Regions from separate parts of the Homo sapiens genome. Here regions 2 and 3 are each linked to region 1. The links come from fine-mapping of genetic effects on gene expression. A gene starts in region 1. Each other region holds a variant in brackets. All regions are shown on one strand. Distances are from middle to middle. Region 1 holds the start of TPCN2 (two pore segment channel 2). Region 2 has its middle 29 kb from the start of MIR3164. Region 3 has its middle 14 kb from the start of MRGPRF-AS1.

Evidence for each region. PIP is the estimated chance that this variant, and not a neighbour inherited with it, causes the effect.
Region 2: its variant is the best candidate, but not a certain one, in a credible set for the expression of TPCN2 in prefrontal cortex (BrainSeq, PIP 0.64).
Region 3: its variant is the best candidate, but not a certain one, in a credible set for the expression of TPCN2 in whole blood (TOPMed, PIP 0.90).

What each region holds. Positions count from the first base shown.
Region 1 is chr11:69,046,231-69,053,013 of GRCh38, forward strand. It overlaps TPCN2 (two pore segment channel 2), which reads left to right and starts at 2,702. Exons shown (of 25, transcript NM_139075.4): 1 at 2,702-2,876. The coding sequence starts at 2,768. RefSeq lists silencers at 2,440-2,659, 2,780-2,949, 3,030-3,129 and an enhancer at 5,106-5,680.
Region 2 is chr11:69,108,296-69,116,861 of GRCh38, forward strand. No RefSeq gene overlaps it. Among named protein-coding and RNA genes, the nearest start is that of MIR3164, 29 kb to the left of the region's middle. The variant A/G (reference allele first, on the strand shown) is at 4,354.
Region 3 is chr11:68,994,274-69,002,839 of GRCh38, forward strand. No RefSeq gene overlaps it. Among named protein-coding and RNA genes, the nearest start is that of MRGPRF-AS1, 14 kb to the right of the region's middle. RefSeq lists a silencer at 393-559 and an enhancer at 8,137-8,566. The variant C/A (reference allele first, on the strand shown) is at 4,355.

The DNA of each region.
Region 1 (6,783 bases):
AGGCGCCTGCCACCATGCCTGGCTAATTTTTGTATTTTTAGTAGAGACGGCGTTTCACCATGTTGGTCAAGCTGGTCTCGAACTCCTGACCTCAGGTGATCCGCCTGCCTTGGTCTCCCAAAGTGCTGGGATTACAGGCATGAGCCACTGTACCTGGCCTGAAAGCAGAGTCTTGACGAATTATTTGTACACTCATGTTCACAGCAGCATTATTCACAATAGTCAAAAGGTGGAAGCAACCCAGTGCCCATCCATGGATGACTGGATAAGCAAAATGTCATGGATACATACAGTGGAGTATTATTCAGCTTTAAAAAGGAAGGAAATTTGGACACATGCTACATGGATGAACCTTGAGGATTTTAGGCTAAATGACATAAGCCAGTCACAAAAGAACAAATACTGCAGGATTCCACTTAAATGAGGAACCTAGAGTCGCCAAAATCTTAGGGATAGAAAGGAGAATGGTGGTTTCCAGGGGCTGAGGGAATGAGGAGTCAGTGCTTAATGGGTCCAGAATTTCAGTTTTGCAAGATAAAAAGAGTTCTGGAGTTGGAGGTGATAGTTGTATAGCATCATTAATATATTTAATATCAATGAGCTGTACACTTCAATATAGTTATGTGAACTAAAAATATCTGAGACAGGTCTCGATCTATTTAGTAAGTTTATTTTGCCAAGGTTAAGGAGTGCCTGGGAGGCAGGTCTATGCCTTCCTTCAAGGATGATTTGTAGGACTTCAATATTTAAAGGGGAAACTGGCCAGGTGCTGTGGCGGAGGTTGCTGAGTGACCTGAGATCGCACCACTGCACTCTAGCCTGGGCAACGAAGCAAGACTCTGTCTCAAAAAAAAAAAAAAAAAAAAAAAAGGGAAAGGGTGGATATTGGGAAAGAGGGAGAAATTTTAAAAATATGTGGAGAGATAAGAGACAAAGGTTGCATTCTTGTGAGTCTTTGATCAGACTTTCACTGAAATACACAATTTACAGGTTGCGGGGGTAGAGGAATAGTCACTTATGCCTTAGTCTGGCTCGGTGAATCTGCACTTTTATACCAGAGGAAGCAATCAGGTGAGCAGAGGGATGACTTAGAGTTCCATCCTTTGTTTGGAACCTGTGAAGATCAGTTGTCAATGTACATTGTTAGGGTAAAATTCAACAAAACTGTTTTAGGGTAAAGATCTTGGGTGCCCACGAAAAATTTCCTAGCGGGCAAATTGTGAGGGAGGTATGTAGCTTTTTAAATCTTCGTAGCTATTTTATTAAAGAAGAAAAGGCGAGGCAGTTTGCCCAACGCAGTTCCCAGCTTGACTTTTCCCTTTGGCTTAGTGATTTTGGAGTCCTGAGATTTATTTTCCTTTCACAGTTATGATGGTAAATTTTATATTTATTTTAAACCCTCCCCCCTCCCCAAAAGAGGGGGAAAAAGTAAAGAGGTATGGCAGAAGGGGAAGTCACAGAGATTGGAAGCGTCTTGCAGCACCTTTTTTTTTGAGATGGAGTCTCGCTCTGTTGCCAGGCTGGAGTGCAGTGGCGCAATCTCAGCTCACTGCAATTTCCGCCTCCCGGGTTCAAGCGATTCCCCTGCCTCAGCCTCCGAGTAGCTGGGACTATAGACACGTGCCACCACGTCTGGCTAACTTTTTGTATTTCAGTAGAGACGGGGCTTCACCATGTTGGCCAGGATGGTCTCGATCTCCTGACCTCGTGATCCACCTGCCTCGGTCTCCCAAAGGGCTGGGATTACAGGCGTCTTGCTGCATCTCGAAGCGTCTTCAGCGTGCTCTTGCTTGCTGGCTCTGATGATGGAGGTGTTCAAGCCATCGTGGAAGGAATGCAGTGGCCTCTAGGAGTGAGAATGACACCAGCCAACATCCAGCAAGAAGACGTGGACTTCAGTCCTAGGCCCATGGAGACAATTCTGTTAACATCCTGGATGAGCCTGGAAGTGGGCTTTCCCCAGAGTCTGCAGATAAGAGCCCACGGCAGCTGACATTTTGACTCTAGCCTCGTGAGGCCCTGAGACAGGAGGTTTCCTGCCCCGCAGGACTGAAAGATGATGAATGGGAGTTATTTTATATTTTCAGATTGTGGTAATTAGTCACTGTAGCAATAGAAAACGAATACAAGGTCTTTATGCATTAATGTTGAAAACACTTTTTATATACGTTGTAAATATTTTTTAAGTGTGTCATATGTTTTTAAACTTTTCCCTTAATGATATTGAATCCTCCTAATTTCACCATCAGAGGGTAAACTCCAGTTCCATTCTGGGGGGAGTCCTTTGCAGTCACCCCGTGTACTCAATACTCACATGCATCAGAATCACCCCGAATGCTTGTTAAAACACAGATTCCTGGGTCCTCCCCGCAGAGTTGCTGATTTAGTAGGTTTAAGGGCCCAAGAATTTGCATTTCTAAAATGTTTCCAGGTGATGCTGAAGCTTCTGGCCGGAAAGACATCCTTTGAGAACATATTTCCTCCCCAGCCCTCGGCCCTTAAGCCCCAGAACGCTGCCCCGCCCTGGGTGGAACGAAGCTGAGCTCCACCCTAGAGGGGCGGGGCCCTTTAGCTCCGCCCCACTCAGGAGAACCCCACCCCTCCCTCCCCGTTCTCATTGGCTGGGACTGCAGGGATCCCCTGCGCCACAGTGCCGTGCGCGCGTCAGCAAAAACGCCAGGGACGGGGTCTCCGCGCCTGCGCAGTGAAGCTGGGCGCCTTCGGGGCTTGAGCTTCTGAGGGTCGGGTCCAGCGCGTGGGCTGCTGGATGGCGGAACCCCAGGCGGAGTCGGAGCCCCTGCTGGGCGGGGCCCGCGGCGGTGGCGGCGACTGGCCGGCGGGGCTGACCACTTACCGCAGCATCCAAGTCGGCCCTGGTGAGCCGCCCGGACCTGGGGAGGGGACTGGCCCGGGAGACCAGGGTCGCGCGTGGGGGTCCCGCTGTCCCAGCACCCCGCTTTCTGCCGGGCGCGCCCCCACCAGGTTCGAGTCCGAGCGGGGCCCGGGCCGCGCCGGGTGCCAGGCGAGCCGGTGTTCTGAGGGCGAGTGGGCTGCGTCCTGCGGACCCGGACCGGGGTCAGGGCAGAGCTGGGGTCTCTTCCGTGTCGCGTCCTGATCCCGACCAGCTGGGCGAAGAGGCCCTCGCCCAGCCTTGGGCAGCCCCGAGGGAACCGGCCACCTGCGGCAGGCACCCTCCGTGTGCCCGGGCGGGCCCAGACCCCATACTTCCCGACTGTCGCCGTAATGAGGGTCGCCTAATTGACTCAGAGAAGGCAGCACTTTGATTTTTCCCGTTTCTTCTGGAAAAAGCAGAGGCTCACAGAGAGGCGTTACCCTACCCAAGGTCACACACCCAGTAAGTGGCCGAGGTGGGATTCGAACCAGTTGGGAGCTAGGAGTCCTTTCTTTGTAGGGTGCCTTTCCCCGTCCCACTTCCCGTGGGGCTGGGGCGGGCCCCCTAGACGGGGGCGGCTTCCTCTCCTTGCCCTCTGCCACCCCAGAGTCCCCTCTGCACTCCCTCCTGCCCTTCCCGTTTTTTGTCCTGGTCTGAAGATTGCTGAATCCGCCCCCCGAGGGTGGGGTGCGTCCGCCCCTCGCTGACACCAGGGGAATGAGATTCTGGATTAAGAGGTGGAAGGACCTTAGCTTCACTTCACAGATGAGGAAACTGAGGCCCAGAGAGGCCCTGAGACCTGCCCAAGGTCACAGCCCTCTGTTCTGGTGCGGCTGCTGCTCGAACCACTCTGAGAATTCACACCTGGCTCCTTCCCTCTCTGGCCTCTCTTTCCTTCTTTCCTCCTCTGTCTGGAAGGAACTGGGTTGGAATCCTGGTGCCCACCCACTGGTCTGTGGCATGTGCCCATCCATGGAGTAATGAGGGGCCAAGGAGGGGACCCTGACGAGAGATGAAAAACCAGAGGCCAAGGTGGCCACCCTGTCTGCTCACCTCAGAAGCTGCCTCCAGGAAGTTCTTCAGGTGCTTCCTGGGACCAGTCAGGAAGGAGATCTGCAGGGAGCAGCTCTGGCAGGCCCCTTGATGAGACGCCCAGCATATGGCACCGTTCAGGGAACACAGACTTTGTGTCTAGGGGTCTGGGCGCCTTTCTGGGGCTGCACTGGCTGTGTGACCTTGGCAGGTTGCTTAACCTTTCTGTTTCTTTTTTGAGATGGAGTATCACTCTGTCACCCAGGCTGGAGTGCAGTGGCGTGATCTCGGCTCACTGCAGCCTCTACCTCTGCTGGGTTGAAGCGATTCTCCCGCCTCAGCCTCCCAAGTAGCTGGGACTGCAGGCGCCCGCCACCACACTTGGCTAATTTTTGTATTTTTAGTAGAGATGGGGTTTCACTGTGTTGGCCAGGGTGGTCTCAAACTCCTGACCTCGGGTGATCTGCCTGCCTCGGCCTCCCAAAGTGGTGGGATTACAGGCGTGAGCCACTGTGCCTGGCCATGCTTCACCTTTCCGAATCTCAGTAAAAGGGAGATAATACTAAGGACTGCCTGGCGGGCATTGTGAGGATTCAGAGAGAATCCAGAGTTTGTCCTCAGCACAGGGCCCGGCGGGCTGGTGTGGGGGCCAGTGGCCGTCCTGGGTAAGCTCTGTGATCATTGCAGGTCCTCCCTGGCAGGTGAGACCCGCTCTGCTGGGCAGTGTGGCTGACAAGAGGAGGCTCTCGGGGAGCGCTCTTTGTCCCTATGCTGTGGCCTCAGCCAGGGCTTCTGAGAACGTGGACAGGACGCTCTGTGTTCTGAATCCCCTTGGCCAGGGTCCCCAGCAAGGACTGGCAGACTATGGAGCCATGGAGACTCCGAAAGGCTCATTCAGTCTCTGTGCTGAGGCCTGTGCCAGGCTTTGAAATGAAGGCCCTGTGCTCTGGTTTGCAAGTCCTGTGGTTGGTCTCTTGCCAACGGGTTGTGGTGAGGGCTGCTGCTGTGGGTGCCCCAAGGACCCCAGTGGACCCTGCTGTTGGGTCGTTTTGACTTGGCCCCACCTGATGGGGCCGGGGTCAAAGGTTGAGAACAGTTGTTTTCTCTTGTTGCTGGGTCAGAAAAATCACACTTTTACTGGTTATCAAACAAGTCAGAGGACAAGGGATTGCGATGCTGTAGAGGCTTTCAGAGTAACTGAATGCTTATGAAGGGCTCACTTAGCAAAGTACTCTGGCTATAGTAAGTCATTCAGTCTGTACTTAGCTCCTATTGGGTGGGGGTCCATGAGGACCTGGAGCACCTAGAGGTTAAGGGACTTGCCCAGGGTCACAGAGGATGATGGTCAGGACCCTACACAGGTTGTGCAGCCTGGAGCCTGGAGCAACAGGGGAGCGGGAGCTCAGACCTGGATGTTGCGGGGCAGAGGCTTGGATTAGGAAGCCGTGTCGAGGCCTGGTGTGCCGGATGCAGCATCTCAGCCCCTGCTGTCCTCTGTGCCTTGCAGAACCCTTCAGCCCCAGTGGGTGATGGTGTGTGGAAAGGTGATTGTCCCCCAGGGTGATGAGCTCAGGGCGGGGCGAGCTGTCCCAAGGGAGTCCCTGGACTCACAAATTGGGGGATGGTGCTCCTGGCAGAAGCAGCAGCCTGAGTAAAGGGTTGGAGGCTTTGGAGAGCATGGCCTTGGCAGAGCCCAGTTCGGAATGAGTGGCACTGAGGGTTGAAAGGCAGGAGAGAGGCGGGCCGGCAAATGTGGGAACCTGCAGTGCCAGACCAGGGTGGAGTGTGGGCCTGGAATAGTGGGGGCCCAGGGGAAGCTGCGATGTGCTTCTGAGTGTTTGGAACGAGATCCTTGGGCTGTTGCAGGGTGAAACGGAGGATGGCCAGACCCAGAATTTTACAAACCAGCAACCAAAAAGCCAGGCGAAAGGGAACCACGAGTGCTGGATGGTTCCAGGGGTGCCCACCACTGTTGGCCTGGGATGGCTGGCCTGGGTGGATGTGAGTACTTTCCGTGGTCCTGGGGCTGGAGTGAGGCCCGGAACTCGGCCGCTTGTCTCTTGTCTAAGAAGCTTGTATCACTAGATCTCTCCTGGTAGAGATTTTGTCTTCTCCCAGGGAATCTGGTAAGGTGGGGCCTCTCAGATCACCGGCCCCCCAGGCTCCCCTCAGGGCTGTTCATTTATTCATGGGATATATCAGCTTTGAGTCCTGTGTGCTTGACTTCTGGGCTCTGCAGATACAGCAGGGAACAAAACAGTGTGGCTTCTGTTCATAGCGATCCCAGGATGTGCTCAGGGGACATAAACAGTAGCCACTTTCAGAGCTTCCCTGGGGAGACATTCGGGTGTCCTCAGGGTGGGTCTCGTGGCTGTGCATGTGGGCACCAAAGCCACAGGGAGGGAAGGCTCTTGCTCCCGGCAGTGCAGCAGGGCCGGGCAGAGTGAGGGTGGGGTCCGGTCTCCTGCCTCTGTCTGGGGCCCCTCACACCTCTAATCCGTCCAGGGCCCAGCTGCCTATACCTCATGCCCCCAAGCAGGAGCCCCGAGGACAGGGGCAGCTGCCTCCCTAAGGATGGCCAGTGGCGTGGGCGGGTCATGGCCTGGAGCTCTGCCTGGGGACCAGCACCTCCTGAGGCCTCTGCTGCTGCCTCCCATGTCACCACATTGTCTTGGTGCAGCTGTGGGCCCCAAGGGGCCAGGTGTGAAAGCCGAGTCTCAACTGAAAAAGCAGCTGCTTCACCCTCTCCCCGTGCTGGGAAGTGTCAGCCTCTCCGGGCTCCTCAGTTGCTTCGGGTTGAGTTTTCCTTCCCTGTTGGCCTGCTGGGGAGCAGCTCTGCAGCGAGGCCAGAGGTGGCC
Region 2 (8,566 bases), 63 kb after region 1:
CCAGCACTACACCTCCCAGCCTCAGGGCCTTTGTCCAGGATGTTTGGATTGGGCTGAATGATGACCCCCTTAACGTATGTCCAAATCCTAACCTAGAACCTGTGGGTGTGACCTTTTTGGAAAGAAGGGTCTTTGCAGGTGAAATTAAGGTAAGGGATGAGATCATCCTGGATTATCTGTGTGGGCTCAAAATCCAATGCCAGGTGTCTCATGAGAGAAGAGGTGAAGACACGGAGAGGAGGAGGAGGATGCACGAAGACAGAGGCAGAGACTGGAGTGATGTGGCCACAGTCAAGGAACACCTGGAGCCCCCAGGAGCTGGAAGTGTCAGGAAGGACCCTCCTCTAGCACTTTCAGAGGGAGGGCGGCCTTGCTGACACCTGGGTCTTGGGCTTCGGGTCCCCAGAACTGAGAAAATAAGTCTGTGTTGTTCTGAGCCACCCAGTTTGGGATGGTTTGTTACAGCAGCTGCAGGAGACTTGTACACATTTGTTCTGCCGACACGCTTTTCTCATTCTCACACGCCTTTCAGGTCTCAGACCCACTCCCTGGGGGAGGAGCTCCTTGGTGCCCATCCAAGCACCTGCCCCTGCCCCTTTGGGAGCCCCACCACAGTCTATGATCATGCATTTATTGATCACTTATTAACTTATTTATTGGCTAATTACACATTTGTTGACTATTGAAAATGCGAACTATGTCTGGTTTACCTTTGAATCCCAGCATCTGTGAAGAGCCGGCTCCTGCTATTATTATTGTTAATCAGTATTAGTATTAGCATTAAATGAATGAACAGGTACCTCCTCATTCATTCATTTATCCATTCAATTACCATTTATTGAATGCTGCTGGGTGCCAGGGGCTGGGGATATGGCTGTGAACAAGACAGACCCAAGTGCCTGCCTTGGTGGGCTCTTCTAGTCAGAGTGGCCAGGAGAAGCAGACCAAGTGTCTGGTGCATCAGGCAGTGGTGAGCTCCAGTGGAGATTTAGCCTGGGCCAGGGCAGGCCTGGCTGATGAAGGAACACACATCCAAGGAAAGGGAGGCAGGGATCCCAGTGGAGACCTCAGGACAGAGCAGCACATGCCAAGGCCCTGAGGTGGGGCATGCTGAGCTCCTCGAGGTTCCCTGAAGGGGCCTTGTGTGGAGCAGAGGAGCTCCTGGCGGTTTGAGTGGAGGAAGGATGAGATCCAATGTACTCTGTTAAGGCTCGCCCTGAGTCCTGATGGCTGGGATGTCCATGGCCTTTGAGCTGTGCAGTGGAGAAGTGAGAAGTGAGGATCTGCAGGGGTGGCTCCAGGCATTTTTGAGTCTGCAAGGGAGACAACTGATCACTTTAATCAGGCACTGCAAACTCTTTAGATCAAGAGCTGGGAGATGTGGCCATTTTCTTGCTCACTCTGAGGTGGGAGATAGCTGAGGTGTTGACCAAGATCAAGACAGGGCAGCACCACCGTTTGCCATGCTCTGCCTTTAGGCATCTCCCACCTGGCTGCCTTGAAGAACACTTGCTCCCTTCAGAGTTGCAAATCAATCAATTGATAAATCAATCAATACATCAATCCTCATGTTACTTTGTTAATCATCTCCTGTATCAGTCACAGCACTGGCATCTGGCACACATTATCAAATTTAATCCTTCCTACTTTCCCTTATGAGGCCCTTTATACAGATGAGGAAACCGAGGCTCAGAGAGGAAAGTCTGTGGCTTCAGGGTCATCAGCTAGGAAGTGGCCAACTCTGGCACAGACCTCAGGCCTGTGTGAGGCTGAGTTCAGTGTGTCCTGGCATGGAAGAGAGAGAAGTTGGCAGATGCAGTGCCCTAGCATCTACTTGGAGGAAGAGGTTGGGATCCTTGGGAGAGAGGGCTTCTGGAAGTGCAAGTGTTCTAGGAGAGAACTGTGTGAGCAGTGCACAGTGCTGGAAAACATGGGGCCAAGAGGTTGGCCTGGTGGGGTTCTCTGTCTCTGAGGCTACGACTGGGGGACACAGCCAGTGGGGTCCCTGACTGAGACCTTTGTAGAGTTCTAGGGAGAGAAAGGCAGGAAATACAAATTATTCTACCAAGACAGTTGTCTTTCTGGGGTATGACCAGTTTTCTCCACCCACCATCCATCCATCCATCCATCCATCCATCCATCCATCTAAATATCCATCCATTCATCCATCCATCCATCCATCCATCTGTCCATCTAAACATCCATCCATCCATCCATCCGTCCGTCTGCCCGTCCGTCCATCCATCCATCCAAACATCCATCCATCCATCCATCCAAACATCCATCCATTCATCCATCCATCCATCCAAACATCCATCTATTCATCCAAACATCCATCCATCCATCTAAACATCCATCTATTCATCCATCCATTCATTCATCCAAACATCGATCCATCCATCCATTCATCCATCCAAACATCCACCCGTCCATCCAAACATTCATCCAAACATCCATCCATCCATCCATCCATCCATCCATCCATCCATCCATCTAAACATTTATCCATCCATCCAAACATCCATCCATCCAACCATTCAAACACCCATCCATCCAACCATCCAAACACCCATCTATTCATCCATCCATTCATCCATCCATCCATCCAAACATCTGTCCATCCATCCATCCATCCATCCATCCATCCGTCTGTCCATCCATCCATCCATCCATCCATCCATCCATCCATCCATCCATCCATACATCCATCCATCCATCCATCCATCCATCCATCCATCCATCCATCCATCCATCCATCCATCCAAACATTCCCCAAATATCTATCCAAACTCCCTACTTCCCTCTTTGTAGTCTATGACAAACATTCTTGTTGGTACTGGGGATACAGGATGGATCCTAGTTCCTGCTCTCAGGAGGCTGGGAAGCTCTGAAGAAATGATTATGCAAATCTACTAGAATTGTGAGGACCACCAGGAAGGAAGGTACAGCACTCACTAAGAGTGTATAACCAGGCCCCCCTCACCTGGTGCTCAGAGTGGGCTTCTCTGGCAAGTGAGCTGAGATGAATTGGATGAGCCAGAGTGACCTGGTCGGGAGCAGAGAAGCGCAGTCCCAGTGGGAGGAACAGAATGTGCAAAGCGTCTGAAGAAGGAAGGGCTTGTTGAAGTGGGAAGACTGGTGTCTGTAGGGGTGGGTGGGGAAAATGAAGAGGCTGTGGAGGAGGCGGGGGGCTCAGGCACTGGGTCGGGGGGCCATACTCTGATGATGCTGACAGACTCAGGGTCAGGTGATCACTCTGGGGTGTGAACTCAATGTGGCCCCCTTCCAATTCTGTTTTGCAGTCTCTGCTTTCTCAGAAGGTTACTCCAAAAGGGGACCACAAGGTCAAGATGGGCATGGGGAGGCTTTGGATGCCGAAGCAGTTTTATTTTGGCAAGTCAGCCGAAGGAGCACGTGCGCCTAAAATTAGGCAAGAGTGTGAGCTGCACACAAGTTCACACGCTCAAAACTCCTGTGGGCAGGGCCTGCGCAGCTCTCCTCTGTCTGTTAATGGTACAGTCTGTTCAGACCTTTGGAACATTCCTCAGCTTTTATTTAATGTAGGAAGAATCATTTCTGGAATTAGCATATAAATTGGCAGAAGTCAGCAGCTCTAGCAGAAGTCACTCTCTGTGTCAGGACAGGAGAGCGAAGGCCTGTGCATGGATGGGAGGTCCACTCCCACTCCCCTGGCGCCCTCCTTTCCCCTTCAAGGGGCATTTACATGGTTCATTTAAAACACTCCAGCCTTCTTCCCAAAATGTGCAACTTGGGAAAGAATCTGTGTCCCTTCAGCTCTGGCTGCAAGGGGAGAGGGGTCGTGGCCAGGGACGGGGTGCTGAGGAGAGCATGGGAAGCCTTTCTGACCAAATGGCTTGCTTCGGGAAAATTTTCCCACAGGAGTGGCCCCATGGCCTGCCTCCCAGCACAAGGTTATTGAAAGGGAACACAGAGAAATGTTCACTGCCCTAAGCTGTCTTGTCTGGTCTGGTCGGGGGCAGATATTTTACACATTTTATAGCCCTATTAGTTTTAGGTCTTTTGGATAGGGGTGACCAGTTGATCATTAACTGTTTGCTACGTGTGGCATTCCGAATTCTGGCCCCAGATAGCTCAGCCCAGCGTGCTGATTCCGCCTGGCCATTGGGCCATGGCTGGGTGGGCCGCCGCCTTCCCCAGCGGGTGGGGCGAATTCTCCTGATGCCAGGGCTGGGGCCCATGTGGAGGCCTCCCTGGCTCCCTCAGGCTCTGGTGTGAACACTTCATTATCCTTTCTGGGAGTTCAATCCCCTTGTGAACCCTTCACCATGGTGTCTTCACAAGACTGTGGGCGTCTGCCCTAAAAAGGCACCA[A/G]TGATTTGATTCTGACATTCCTACTTTGGTGTGTTTCCCCCAGAATAAAATAGCAATCAGGCTGAGCGCGGTGGCTCATGCCTGTAATCCCAGCACTTTGGAAGGCTGAGTTGGGCGGATCACGAGGTCCGGAGATCGAGACCATCCTGGCTAATATGGTGAAACCCTATCTCTACTAAAAATACAAAAAATTAGCCAGGTGTTATGGGCGCCTATAGTCCCAGCTACTCAGGAGGCTGAGGCAGAAGAATCGCTTGAACTCGGGAGGCGGAGGTTGCAGTGAGCCGAGATCGCGGCACTGCACTCCAGCCTGGGCAACAGAGCGAGACTCCTCCCCACCCCCCCAGCAAAAACAGCAATAAAACAGGGGCTCTCTCTACGTCCTGGACAACCATGGGGTCTGGGTGTCCTCTTCTCCACCTTTCGGCCTCCAGGCCTGGCCAGGACACTGTCCTGTCCTCGTTGTAAGACTTGCATTTTTGACGTTCTCTACCTACAAAAGGTTCGTGCCAAAGTGCAGCTTTTGGTCGGGTTGGGAATCCTCAGGCGGCTTCTTGGACAGGAGGGTTGGGCAGGTCGATGGGGTGGGAGTTGGGGAGCAGCCACACTCATGAATAGATTCTCGTTTTGCACTAATCAGATTTTCTAGCAGAGCTTCCAGAAATGTCGTTCTCTTGCAGAATCAAAGGCAATTGCAAGGCATTAAAAACCAATGTGCCTTCAGTGTGTGGGCTCCCGGTCTCACCCCCAGCTGGTTCATGTTGCCGCCCAGTCCCGTCTCAGACCTCCTTAGGCCGCCTGTTCTCCCTCCCCGCCCTCAGCTCAGTGCCATCTCCCCTCCCGGCAACTCCCTGTTCTAACTCCTCTCATTCTGGGACACGTGGCCTCTGGTGGGCACTTCCAAATGGTCAGTGTTGTCACTCACCCTGGGCTTAGAACTGTCTATGGCTCTTCAGGATTCAATCTAAGAGAAAAGCCCCAACCCCTGGTTTGAGCCTAGAATGCCCAGCGAAGCCCGGCCCCTCCTTTCCCCACACCTTCACTCAGGGCAGCCTCGAGAACGTCCTGCAGCTGCCTGGACATGGCACCGCTGTCTCTCTCTGTGCGTGTCCACTGCTGTTCCCTCTGCTGTCTCTCTCTGTGCGTGTCCACTGCTGTTCCCTCTGCTGTCCCCTCGTCCCCACCTGGCCAACCTGCCCCACCCCGACGCCCCTCTTCAGGAGGCCTCCCCTGTCCCTGTCTCTGGGCTCTAGTGCTGCATTCATCACGTTATTCCCTTTCCATGAGTCTCATTTCCTCCTGGGTCTCCTTCCACCTCCATGCATTCTGGGGCCAGAGGCAGCTCTGAGCACTGTGGCCGAGGGATAGACGGACCAGTATGTGGGGAGGTGGGTGAGGGGTGTGCAGTTTTATAGCTCAGCCCAGAACATAGGCGGTGGAGCCAGATGGACCTGGGCTCGAGCCCAGCCCTCGCAGCTGTGTGATCTGAACAAGTTACCTAACCTTTCTGAGCCCGGTTTTTTCATGTTAGCAAACAGGCTGTGCGACAGCCCTTCTGGAAGGTCAGGGAGGCTGTGGCCCAGCTCTCGCTCGGAAGTGCTCAGTGATGGGTTTGGAATATTGTGGGGACCGAGGGGTAGGGATGTTTTCCCTGACTGCGTGAGGATGACCCTGGTGTGTGGAGCAAAAAGGCAAGCTGGCCCCCGGGCGTAGGGGCTGGGGGTGCCACAGGGAGGTGCTTTTATGCTCATGCCTTCCAGAATGGGAGAGCCCCAGGCCTCACCCAGGAAAGAGAAGGACCTGTGCCAGGTGCCGGCTTCATGTCCAGCTCTGCCACCCTCTTTCGTAGGGATCCAGGGCCCCATTGTTCACATGGGGGTGGCCTCTAGGCTCCTGATGATCTCTTGGGAGCTGCCCTTGGTGATGCCGAGCTGCCTACAGGGGTCCTTCTGGGGCCTGAGGCCAGGTGGTCACTGGGCCCCTGCCCCTCGGCCCCTTTGTGAACCCAGCAAAACCTGCACCTTTGGCGCATGACCTCCAGCTCCTTGGGAACCTATGGCTGCTCTTCCAGAAGTCCCTCTACCTGGCAATGGGCCCTCCACCGAGAACTCCTGGTGCTGAGATGGACGGATCATGATTTCCTTCTGTCTGCACCAGGCTTTGCTTAGGAGAGAAAATGCCAGAAACAAAAAGGCTTTTCTCACTCTCAGCCTTAACATAGGATTTATTATGAATAAATGAAACTCCCTTGCAGGGCAGTTGCTCTGCGACCAGCGTGGCCTAGGAAGGCTCAGCTCCAAGTGATCAGCTCTGTCCTACAGAGACTGAAGCTTGGAGCAGCTGGTGACAGGACCACGGGCACGTAGCCTGGATTGGGAGAAGTTGGGAGTGGCGATCACTAGTGTTTGCGGAGCACTTGCTAGGAGGCCTGAGCCAAGGATGTTATCTTATTGATGTACGTTATCTTATTTAATCAGAGCCTGCCAAACATCCCAGTCTGCCCCAAAGTCCCGGGCGACACCTGTCGCCCTGGCGTCATCATTAATAACCCCCGGAAGGTGAAAACTCTCAGAGTGCCCTTGTGGAGCTGAGAAGGAGCACGGTTTCACTGTGCTTAGTCCTCTGTCGAGCCCTCTGGAATATCCCTATGATGTGGATGAACAAGCTGTGGGTCAGGGGGATGGAGGGACTTGCCCAGGGTCACCAGCTCGGAGGCAGGGTTGGATTCCAGGATTTATAATCTCAGAGGTGGGATTTAAAGCCACGACCCTCTAATCCTTCCCAAGCAACAGAAGGCACGGAGTGTGTTCGCGGTGTCAGGGAGGGTGGTGGGAAGGCAGGGGCGGAGGTCCCTTCGGAGGCCTGACCTTCCCAGGACCCCTCACCAGCGGTCAGCAGCCGGGGTCCCGGGAAGAATTCTGCCGAGAGAGAGCTTTTTCCCCTTCAAGGAATAAAAAGCACACACACACATTCCTCCGAATCAAAGGTGTGTCCAGAGAGAGGGAGGGCAAGGCCCCTTGACCAGCAGCTGCCAGCAGCCTGGGCACATGACAGCCCCTGAAGGCTGCTGGCACCGACTCTGGCCAGGCATTTGCAGTGGACGGCGGTGCCAGGACAGGGAGGGCGGCCTTTCACCAGCTTGGCACCTCTGCCATGTGACGGCCGCCTCCCCTGGGGGAGGGCGGGGCCGCTCCTCTCCCAGCAGGCGGGTGCAGCCCCAGGGGTGCTGCAGGCCACTGCGGGACCTTCAGCGTCCGGCTCCCGGCACTGGCCTCTGTGCCCTGGCCGTTCCTGGGGTGGGGCATGGGTCAGGAACTCGCACTCTCACTCTCGGGAGATAGGAACTCAGTCCCATTCATAACCCCACCGTGTAACCTGGAAGGCACTTTGCAGTTTACAAAGGCCGTCATAGCCAGGGTCCTTGAAGGAGGCGTGTCACCGTCCACTCTCCAGAGAGCAGCCTGCGGCCTGGGAGGTGGGCTTCGCCTCCTCGACGTCACATGTTGGGGGCTGTTTCCTCGTTGACTTCCAGTGCAGGGCTGTGATCTGGAGTCCAGGCCTTGCTGGCCGGGACCCCCAGGACAAGGGTGGCCGTGACATATGTTCTGGCGCCTTCAGTACTAGTGAAAGAAACGAGCCGGCCGTGTCAGCTGGGAGATTTCTTGCGGCTGCCGTAACAAAAGATCACAAACTGGTGGGGGCTGGAAACCACAGAAATGCCTTCTCTCCCAGTGCTGGGGCCGAAGCCCGATATCTAGATGTAGGCAGGGCTGCGCTCCCTCCGACTGCTCCAGGGAGGGACCCCGGCCTCTGTCTGCCCTGGTGCCTCCAGGTGCCCTGTGGCTTGTGGCTGCCCCGCTCCAGTCTCCGCCTTGTTTTCATGTGGCCCCCATCTCTTCTCCCTGTGTCTCTCCTCTGAGCCTTCAGGAGGAGGCTGGTCATTGGATTTTGGGTTCTCCAGGATGATCTCACCTCAAGGTCCTTAATTGCATCTGCAGATGCCTGTTTCCAAATAGGGCCACATTTGGTTAGGACGTGGACACGTCTTTCGAAGCCACCATGCAGGCCGCTACAGGAGGTTTCATGAATTCATCTCAATTTCCAGAGGACCTGGTGTTGCTTGGCCGGCCCCCTCCAGCAGTGACTGGAGGTTGCTGAGTAGCAGAAGCTTTAGGTGGGGCAGGCCCTCACCTGTCTGCCACAGCGAACCCCA
Region 3 (8,566 bases), 51 kb before region 1:
GTGCCATCGCCACACACTGCTCATTGAGGGGTTGATCCTGGACTTGGGAGAGGGCAAGTGGAGCCCACCCACAAGACGCCTTCCCAGCTGAGCCCGACACAGCAGGAACAGCGGGGACCCGGCCCCAGGTGGCTCTGCTCTCAGCCTTCTCTTCCTAGGAAGGGTGCGGGGGTATCCAGGGCCAGCCAGGGGGCCCCGTGCCCAGCACATCATGAGCACTCAGAGTTTATTGGCTGAGTGCCTGATGGACTGATGGACTGATGGACAGTGGGACCCCAGACTGCTCAACCCTCCTCAGGGTCCCACGGTTCCCCTGAGTGGCTCTGGGGCTCTGTTAGAGGTTCTGAGCTTGAAGCTTGCTCCTGATCCCCATCAGAGCCAAGAGAAGCCCCGATTTATGCCAACTCCTGCCCCCAGCACTAATCGATGCTGAACGAGGCCTCGAGGAGGTACCGCAGCGGGGGGAGGTGATCATCACTCAGGCCGGGGACGGCCGCACGGCGTCAAGGGGTGTTTACAGTGTTCTAGTGTGCTCAGCGCTGCTTTGCTTGGCCACTGAACACATCAGAGACCGTGGAGACCCCTGGGAGGAGAGGCGTTAATAGCAGTGACCGCCCCGGGTCAGGACCCATGGAGGTGAACGTGCACAGCCCTGAGACGGAGCACCTCCTAAAATTTGGGGGTCTTGTTCTTATTACCAAGGTTATTTGTGTTTACTGTAGAGCACATTGGAGACGCTGGATAGATACTCAAAATACCGAAAAAGAAAAATTGCTCATAATCTCACCACCAGAGATAATTCCTTTGGGAATGGATCCTTCCAAGCGTTTCCTGTGTGTAAGCTTTCACACTGTGGGGTATGTTCGTGTTATGCTTTGATTCCCTAGTTGTTGGGTTTAAAATATTTCAGATTTTTTTTTTTTTTTTTTTTTTTTTTGTGATGGAGTCTCTCTCTCTTGCCCAGGCTGGAGTGCAGTGGCTTGATCTTGGCTCACTACAAGCTCTGCCTCCTGGGTTCACGCCATTCTCCTGCCTCAGATTCCCAAGTAGCTGGGACTACAGGCGCCTGCCACCACATCTGGCTAATTTTTTTGTATTTTTAGTAGAGACAGGGTTTCACCGTGTTAGCCAGGATGGTCTCGATCTCCTGACCTCGTGATCTGCCCGCCTCCACCTCCCAAAGTGCTGGGGTTACAGGTGTGAGCCACCGCGCCCAGACAATATTTCAGATTTTTAAAGTATTTTCTTTTTTCCTTTTTGAGATGGAGTCTTGCCCTGTTGCCCAGGCCAGAGTGCAGTGGCGTGATCTTGGCTCACTGCCACCTCTGCCTCCTGGGTTCAAGTGATCCTCATGCCTCAGCCTCCCGAGTAGCTGGGATTACAGGCGTCTGCCACCACCTGGCTAATTTTTATATTTTTAGTAGAGACGGAGTTTCACCATGTTGGCCAGGCTGGTCTCAAACTCCTGACCTCAGGTGATCCGCCCACCTCGGCTTCCCAAAGTGCTGGGATTACAGGCGTGAGCCACCACGCCTGGCCTTTAAAAGTATTTTCTATTTCCACTGCCTTATGGCCAATAATGGAGCCTGATTTTTAGAATGTGTTGAGGAGTGTGAGTGTGTGTGTGTGTGTGTGTGTGTGTGTGTGTGTGTGTGTGTTGGGGAAGGCACTAGGTTGGAAACTGTCCTCTCATATTCAATGTCAAGTAAGTTTTCCAATAGAGAATCTCTCATGTTAACTTTTAGGATTCCTGTCCTCAAAAGCCTTGCTTGACCTTTTGTCCATGCCACTGAAGACACAAAAATGTGTTCTTTCCCACGGCTAGTATGACGTTGTCCCTTTCTCCCTGTGCCTTAAACATCTTTAAAAACGACACAGATAAGATGCAAAGATTCTTATTTTGAAAGCTTCCAATGCTAAAGAAGAAAGAAGGTCTACCCTTGTCTTCACCCCCAGGTATCACTATAAATCCTTGAAGATTTTTTTTTCTGTGCATTTACCTATCAATATATGTTTTTTACATAAATGAAAATATAGGGCCTGGTTGTCTCGTAAGCTTGCTTTCTCAAAAACAAACTATGTCTTCTTGAATTTAGCTTGTCCGACGCTTCTCCGTGCTGTGCTGCACACTGAGGTGGCAGGTCCCAGGGTTGGTGACATGAGCTCATCCGCGCTTTGAATGTTTTTGAGGTGGGTTTCATTATTTCTGCTTTATTTGGGCTCAGAGAAGCTGAGACACTTGCTGGGCTACCTGGCTACCCTGGCCGAACAGGAACTCCCCCAACGTCCCACGGGGTGCAAAGCATCGCTTCTGTCCCCCACGCTCTCCTGCCTTCACCCAGATTGCAAAAAACAGGCCTCTCACCTGTCTTGGATGCAGTGTGTGGTCCCTCGGTGAAGGTGGCTGGTGCCTGCCCACTCCAGTGCTGGAGGCCTCAGCAGCCACCTAGGCCCAGGCCCCTGAGCCGCTCGCCCTGTTCTGGCTCTGGCCTGAGCTGCCTGCTTCTCTCCCGCTGGGCAGGGCTGCCCCCAGGCTCAGAGGAGCCTGTCCCCAGGATCCCCTGATGATCTTCGCTAGGTTCCCTCTGAGCAGTGGGAAGCCGGGCCTGAGGTATAAATGCAGGATGGGTGCCGGCCCCGCCTGCCAGGGCCTCTGCACGTGGGTACCGCGGTGCTGGCCCAGAAGAGCCAGCTGAAGTCTAATGGACCTGAGCATGAACCCCCGGCCCCCACAGGAGACAGCTTGGCGGCAGTGAAATGGAGGATGAGGCTGGGGCCTTCAAGGAAAGGTGATACCTCCCTTCCTGAATGCCACCAGGGATGGCCGAGGAGACCTCACAGCATTAGTGAGACCCACCGTGGGGGGTTCAGGTGAAGCCATGGAGGAAATGGGGGTTCTTGTGGGCTGGGAAAGGCTATTACAGCCACCCCCAACTGCCTGCCTGGGGAGATGCTCTGGCTAATGGACTCACTAAGGATGCTGCCTACGGAGGGATGGGGAGGAAGAAGAGCTGGGCCCGGAGCCCAGGATCTTATTTCCAGTCTGAGTTCCACTGCTTGTGAGTTGGGGAACCACACCATTCAGGTGACGTCTCTGAGCCTCAAAGTCCTCACCAAAATGCCTGTAGTCCCTCAGGGCCTCCCTCAATTCCTAGAAAGAAGGGGAGCTCACACACATGCCACACAGGCAGATGGTAGAGCAGCCCTTTCCCCCACACCGGCCGAGGCCCCCTTCCTGCCTGGCGAGGGAAGAGTTCTGATGTGTCAGTCCCCTCAAGGGCAGGATGGAGGCCGGCATCTTATCCGTGTCACCTGCCCTGTGAGGGTGCTGGCCTGGAGCAGGTGCCGGGTGGGCCGTATGGGTGGTGCAGCGGATGGCTGAGTCTCTAGGACGGTCCCCGAGCTAGCATGGTGTTCATTCTCACTGTCCCGCCCTGCAGCGGAAGGAGGTATAGGCATGGGAGATGCTGGGCATCTGCTTTGAACAAATGTGCATGAGGAAAGAAAAAGCGGGGACCCCAGACGTTAAGGCTGATCACAGAAGTAACCCTAGGCAACTGACTTGGGGGACAGTCTTAGGGGTGTGGGCGGTGCTGACTCTGCAGTGACAGTGAGGACTTCCCTGGCCTCTTTATTCTGGGTTTGCTGTGCTGGACCTATGGTGCCTGTCTCTTCTCCAGGAGGGGAGATCCTGCCTGAGAATGGGCCAAGACCCAAGAGACAGAGACAGGCTGCTCAGAAAGACATAAGCTTCCAGAAGGTGGCAGTTCTCACATTTTTTGTGCCTTCTGTGCCTAGAACATTGCCTGGCATGTAGAGATGCTCACATTTCTTGACTAATTGCTAGTTGATTGACAGAGTCCCCAGATCCAGGCACCTGGATCCAGCTGTTCTTGAAGCCCATCTTTGCCTGGACTTTTTAGTAATAGGAGCCAGTGCATTCTGTGTGTGTGTGTGTGTGTGTGTGTGTGTGTGTTTCAATGGGGTTTTTGTCATTTGCAACAAAGATTCCTGACCAGTGGAGAAACTAATACCTGAAAGAGGCAAAGAGGCTTGTTGCAAATACCTGCCTTTACATATGCAATTGGCTGGGTCCTGGTGGGATGACACCGTGAGGTTGGTAAAGCCCCACTTTCTGTGTTGGGCCACACGTGTCAGGAGGCAGCTCAGCTCTGCTTCCCCAGGCCTTTAAAGAACATGTGACATCAGGAGTGGTCCCTGCAGATGTCTTATCTGAAGCCTCCCTCCGGGAAGAATCTGCTTTCAAGTTCATGTGGTTGTTGACCGGGCTCGTTTCTTTGCCGGCTGCCAGGCTGGGAGCCTCTGTTTATTGCTGGCTGTTGGCCAAAAGCTG[C/A]CTTCAATGGCTTGCCACAGGGGCCTCTCTAATATGTCAGCTCACAACACGGCAGCTGGCTTCATTGAAGCCAGCAAGGGAGAGAGTCTGCTAGCAAGATGCAAGTCACAGTGCTGTGCAGCCTAATCAGCTTTGCTGTGTTCCATCGGTTAGAAGCAAGCCACTTGGTACAGCCCATGTGCACAGGGAGGGGATGACACGAGGGTGAGACGGCATTGCTGGGGGCTGTCTTGGATTCTGGCCGCCACATCGGTGGGCTGACCAAGACCCCCGTTGCGCTGCTGGTTTCCTGCCTAGCACAGAATATGCCACAGACCAACAACCACCACGTGTTTTTGTTCTTTCCTTTTCCTTTCCAAGTGGGAATTCTAAAAAAAAATTATTGTTATTTCCTTTTTCCTTTCCATTGCGTGTTGTGTGTCTGGAGAGTGACCATCATTTGGCCAAAGGGCACTGTTGTGGCCTGAACGGGGTCTCCCCAAAATTTGTATGTTGAACCCTCAAACCCCCTGTACCTTAGAATGTAACCATATTTGGAGAAAGGGTCTTTAAAGGGTTAATGAAGTTAAGATGAGGTCACTAGGATGGTCCCTGAATCCAGTGTGATTGGAGTCCTGATAAGAGGAGGTGAGGACACAGACAGGCACAGAGGGACCACCCTGTGAGGACACAGGGAGAAGGTGGCCGTCTGCAAGCCAAGGAGAGAGGCCTCAGGAGGAACCAGCCCTGCCACACCTTGATTTTGGATTTCTGGACTCTAGGACTGAGAGAAAGAAAATTTCTATTGTTTAAGTGCTCCCACCAGTCTGTGGTATTGGTGAATGGGTGATAGCATCCCCAGAAAGTACTACAAGTACCTTTCAAAGAGGAGGTGTTTGTGGCTCTGACGGAGGGTGGCGTGAGTAACACCCAGGGTGTGGGCTCGGAGCTGGGGAGGCAGGCCCTGCGGTTGACTTTGGTCATCTCTCTTCTGTGGGGAAGGCAGGCATTTTATGTTGTAAATTATACAGCTACAGATTTTGGCTGGGAGCATTTAAAAATCATACTTAGGAAAGAAGTGGGCACGTAGAGGGTGGACTGAGGGGAGGAACGTGGCCAACACCTGCTGTTTGCCTGCCAGTTTGTTTGTTTGTTTGTTTATTTATTTATCGAGACAGAGTCTCACTCTGTCGCCCAGGCTGGTGTGCAGTGGTGTGATCTCAGCTCACTGCAACCTCTGTCTCTCAGGTTCAAGTGATTCTCCTGCCTCAGCCTCCCGAGTAGCGGGGATTACAGGCACCTGCCACCACGCCTGGCTAATTTTTGTATTTTTAGCAGAGACGGGGTTTTGCCATATTGGCCAGTCTGGTCTCGAACTCCTGACCTTAAGTGATCCACCCACCTTGGCCTCCCAGAATACTGGGATTACAGACATGAGCCACTGCACCCGGCCATGCTTGCCAGTTTTACCTTGGGCGCACCTCTTCCCTGTTTTCAGTCCACTGGGCTAAGGTGGGGTGACTGTCACCCCCTGTCCCCCATCCCTGCCTCCAGCTCCTGGGAGGGTGTGTGCCCCTGGCCTGGCCAGTGCACTTGATATCAGGACTTAAGCTAGAATCTCCAGGAAGGGCGTGCTCTTTCTGCTGGGATTGCAGAATTTGTAGAAGATAAACCGAGAACTGCCGCTTACCTGCCATTTAGTTTTTCCATTGAGAATAAATAGAACACAGACCAAAACAGGGATGAAAACAGGGAAAAGAGAAGTGGCCTAGCGAACATCATCTGCGGCCCTGGATCCAGCTGTGTCTGAAGCCAGAATCACTTCTGGAACTTTCTGGGTATGTGAGTTAGTAAACTCCCTTAAATACACACATACCTCCCATGTACCCCAGATGCCAAAGCTAGATTAACCCGGGGTTTCTGTTACTTGCCACCAAGCACCCTGTCTGATATGGTGTAAAAGTCTGCCTGGGACACTAATCTACAGTGGCATAAAAGCAGAGATGGATGGTCCACCCAGGTCGGGGCAGGGCTGTGCCCAAGGCTGGACCTACTGCCCAGTGGTGCCAGGGAACTTTGGGGGGATGATGGAAGCGATTCTTCCGCAGGGATAGAAACATTCTGATGACATGGGCACATAAACATTTGTCCAAGATAATTAAACTGGATATTAAATGGGTCAGTTTTATTTTATGTAAATTAGGTCTCAATTCAATTTATTAAAAAGATGTTTAAAAAAATCTGCCTGAGCGGGGGAGCCTCCTCTTGCATGCCAGGAAACTTGGCGCTGGCACTCTGACTCACCCGCGCAGAGTTTTCCATGAGTTTTGATTTTGTGAACTGTGCCCTGTTGTTTTCAAGTTCTCCAGCTGTCAAGCCCCTACTGGCTTAAAAGGGAATGTTTTGCACTTGTACTCTCAGTGGTTTTAGTTTGGGAGGATCTCTGCAATGTGTTTGCCCAGCTTTTTGGCCTTGTCACCAGCCCGTCGAAGGGCACATTTCCCAGGCCTGGTCATCTCCCTGTATGCCGAGGGGCCGGACCACATGTGGACCCTCATTTCCCTGCCCTACCTTCTAGATGAGGCCCTGGTTCTTGGGGAGGAAGGATGGTCCTAGCTGAGGATTCCAAGCCAAGCTGTGCAGATGTGAAAAGATCCTGGGGGCTTAAAAATCCTGGCATAAAATATAAAATTCAAGTTATCTGAAAATGACAACTGGCAGGGGATCCGGGAAAGCTGGGTGGATGCCAGAAAGGCATTCCGTTTTCCTTTTGTGAAGACAGGAGACAGAGACGGGAGAGGCGTCGGCGTTCAGGCCGTTTGCTGAGTGTCCGCTGAGCACCTTGTTCCCAGTCCCCGCTTTGATTCAGACGCCCACAGCCTGAAACTGAGCTGTTTCCTCCATTGGTCTCCACAGAGTGTGGATAGGTCTCGATGGCCCGTCTGGGTTATCCTAGGGCTGTGATGGGCATGTCCAGGCCACTCCGTGCATCTGCCCGGAACCCCAGTGTCCAGTGCTTTGCAGATGGGAGATGGAAGGTCAGAGACCTGAGCCTCCAGGGCAACAGGAGGGCCACTGTGGGGAGTCCCTGGATGGTGATGTAGGCCTCCAGCCAGGGCCGTCCACCAGCGCGACTGACCTTGGATGAGAAACTCCATTCATGAGCCCCCACTTCCACAGCTGGGGCTGACAGTATGGGCCATGTAGCCCTGCATGGACAGTCAACAGAAAACCTACGTGCAGCTCTTGGCCAGCACCCACTGCCCATAGTATGTCCGCAAACAGCAGATTGGTGCTGGGGACAAACCACTCACAGGCACATCCCTTCTGCAGTGGCCATTCTGCTCCCTGCCCTGAACGCCCGACCAGGGCAATCAGGCACACCGGCTGCCACCCCAGGCCACTGCACCAACTCCTGGAGGTCGGTGCTGTAGCTGACTTATCCAAGGAAAGTGAGGCACAGCAAGACTGAGGTCCCATGGCTTATAGGTGGCAGCCCTCTGCCTCCCTGAGGCTTGCTCTTGACTTTCCAAATTTGGCCTTGCTTATCCCTTGCATAATCTAAAAGAGCAGCTTATTTTTATAGAAATAGTGGGTGGCAGACAGCACGGAAAAGTGGAGAGTTCTGCCCTGCCTGATGCCCCACCCCTGCCCCTTCACCCCACCCTTCCCACATACCACATGGTTGTTACTAAGTCGGCTTTGTAACAACCAGGGCAGCCCAGATGCTCTGGTCCCATGCCCCACTCTCCATTCTGTGACCTGCTGTGGATCCTTTTCCCAGAGCTGTGGGATGGAAATCTCCCCCGCAGCCCTCAGCTCCTCCCAAGCCCACTTTAATAATTAAATACCAAAGGAAGGAGGAGGAAAGTGGAGGAGAGCGGGCAGTTCCCGCTCATCTCATCATCTGTGCAGTCTCCCTCCATTAGCACAGAGAGCGAGGTGGTCCAGGGAGGTGTGGGAATCCTGGGGCTTTGCGGGGGGATGGAGGGGAAGAAAGCTTGTTCCCTAGCAAGACTGCAAACACCTGCACCTGAGAAGGGCCACGGGTTGGGGGAGGCCTAGTTCCTGGGGTTCACCTCTGCCCCTCCCGCCTTAGGATCCATCAGGGCAGATGCCTCCTCCTAGAGTCGGACCCAGCCTATTCCTGACCTCCAGGCCCTGCTACTGCGTGAGGCTGTCCACCCCCTCACCGGCCCTGGCTCTGAGCTGTTGCAGCAGCATCCAGGCAGG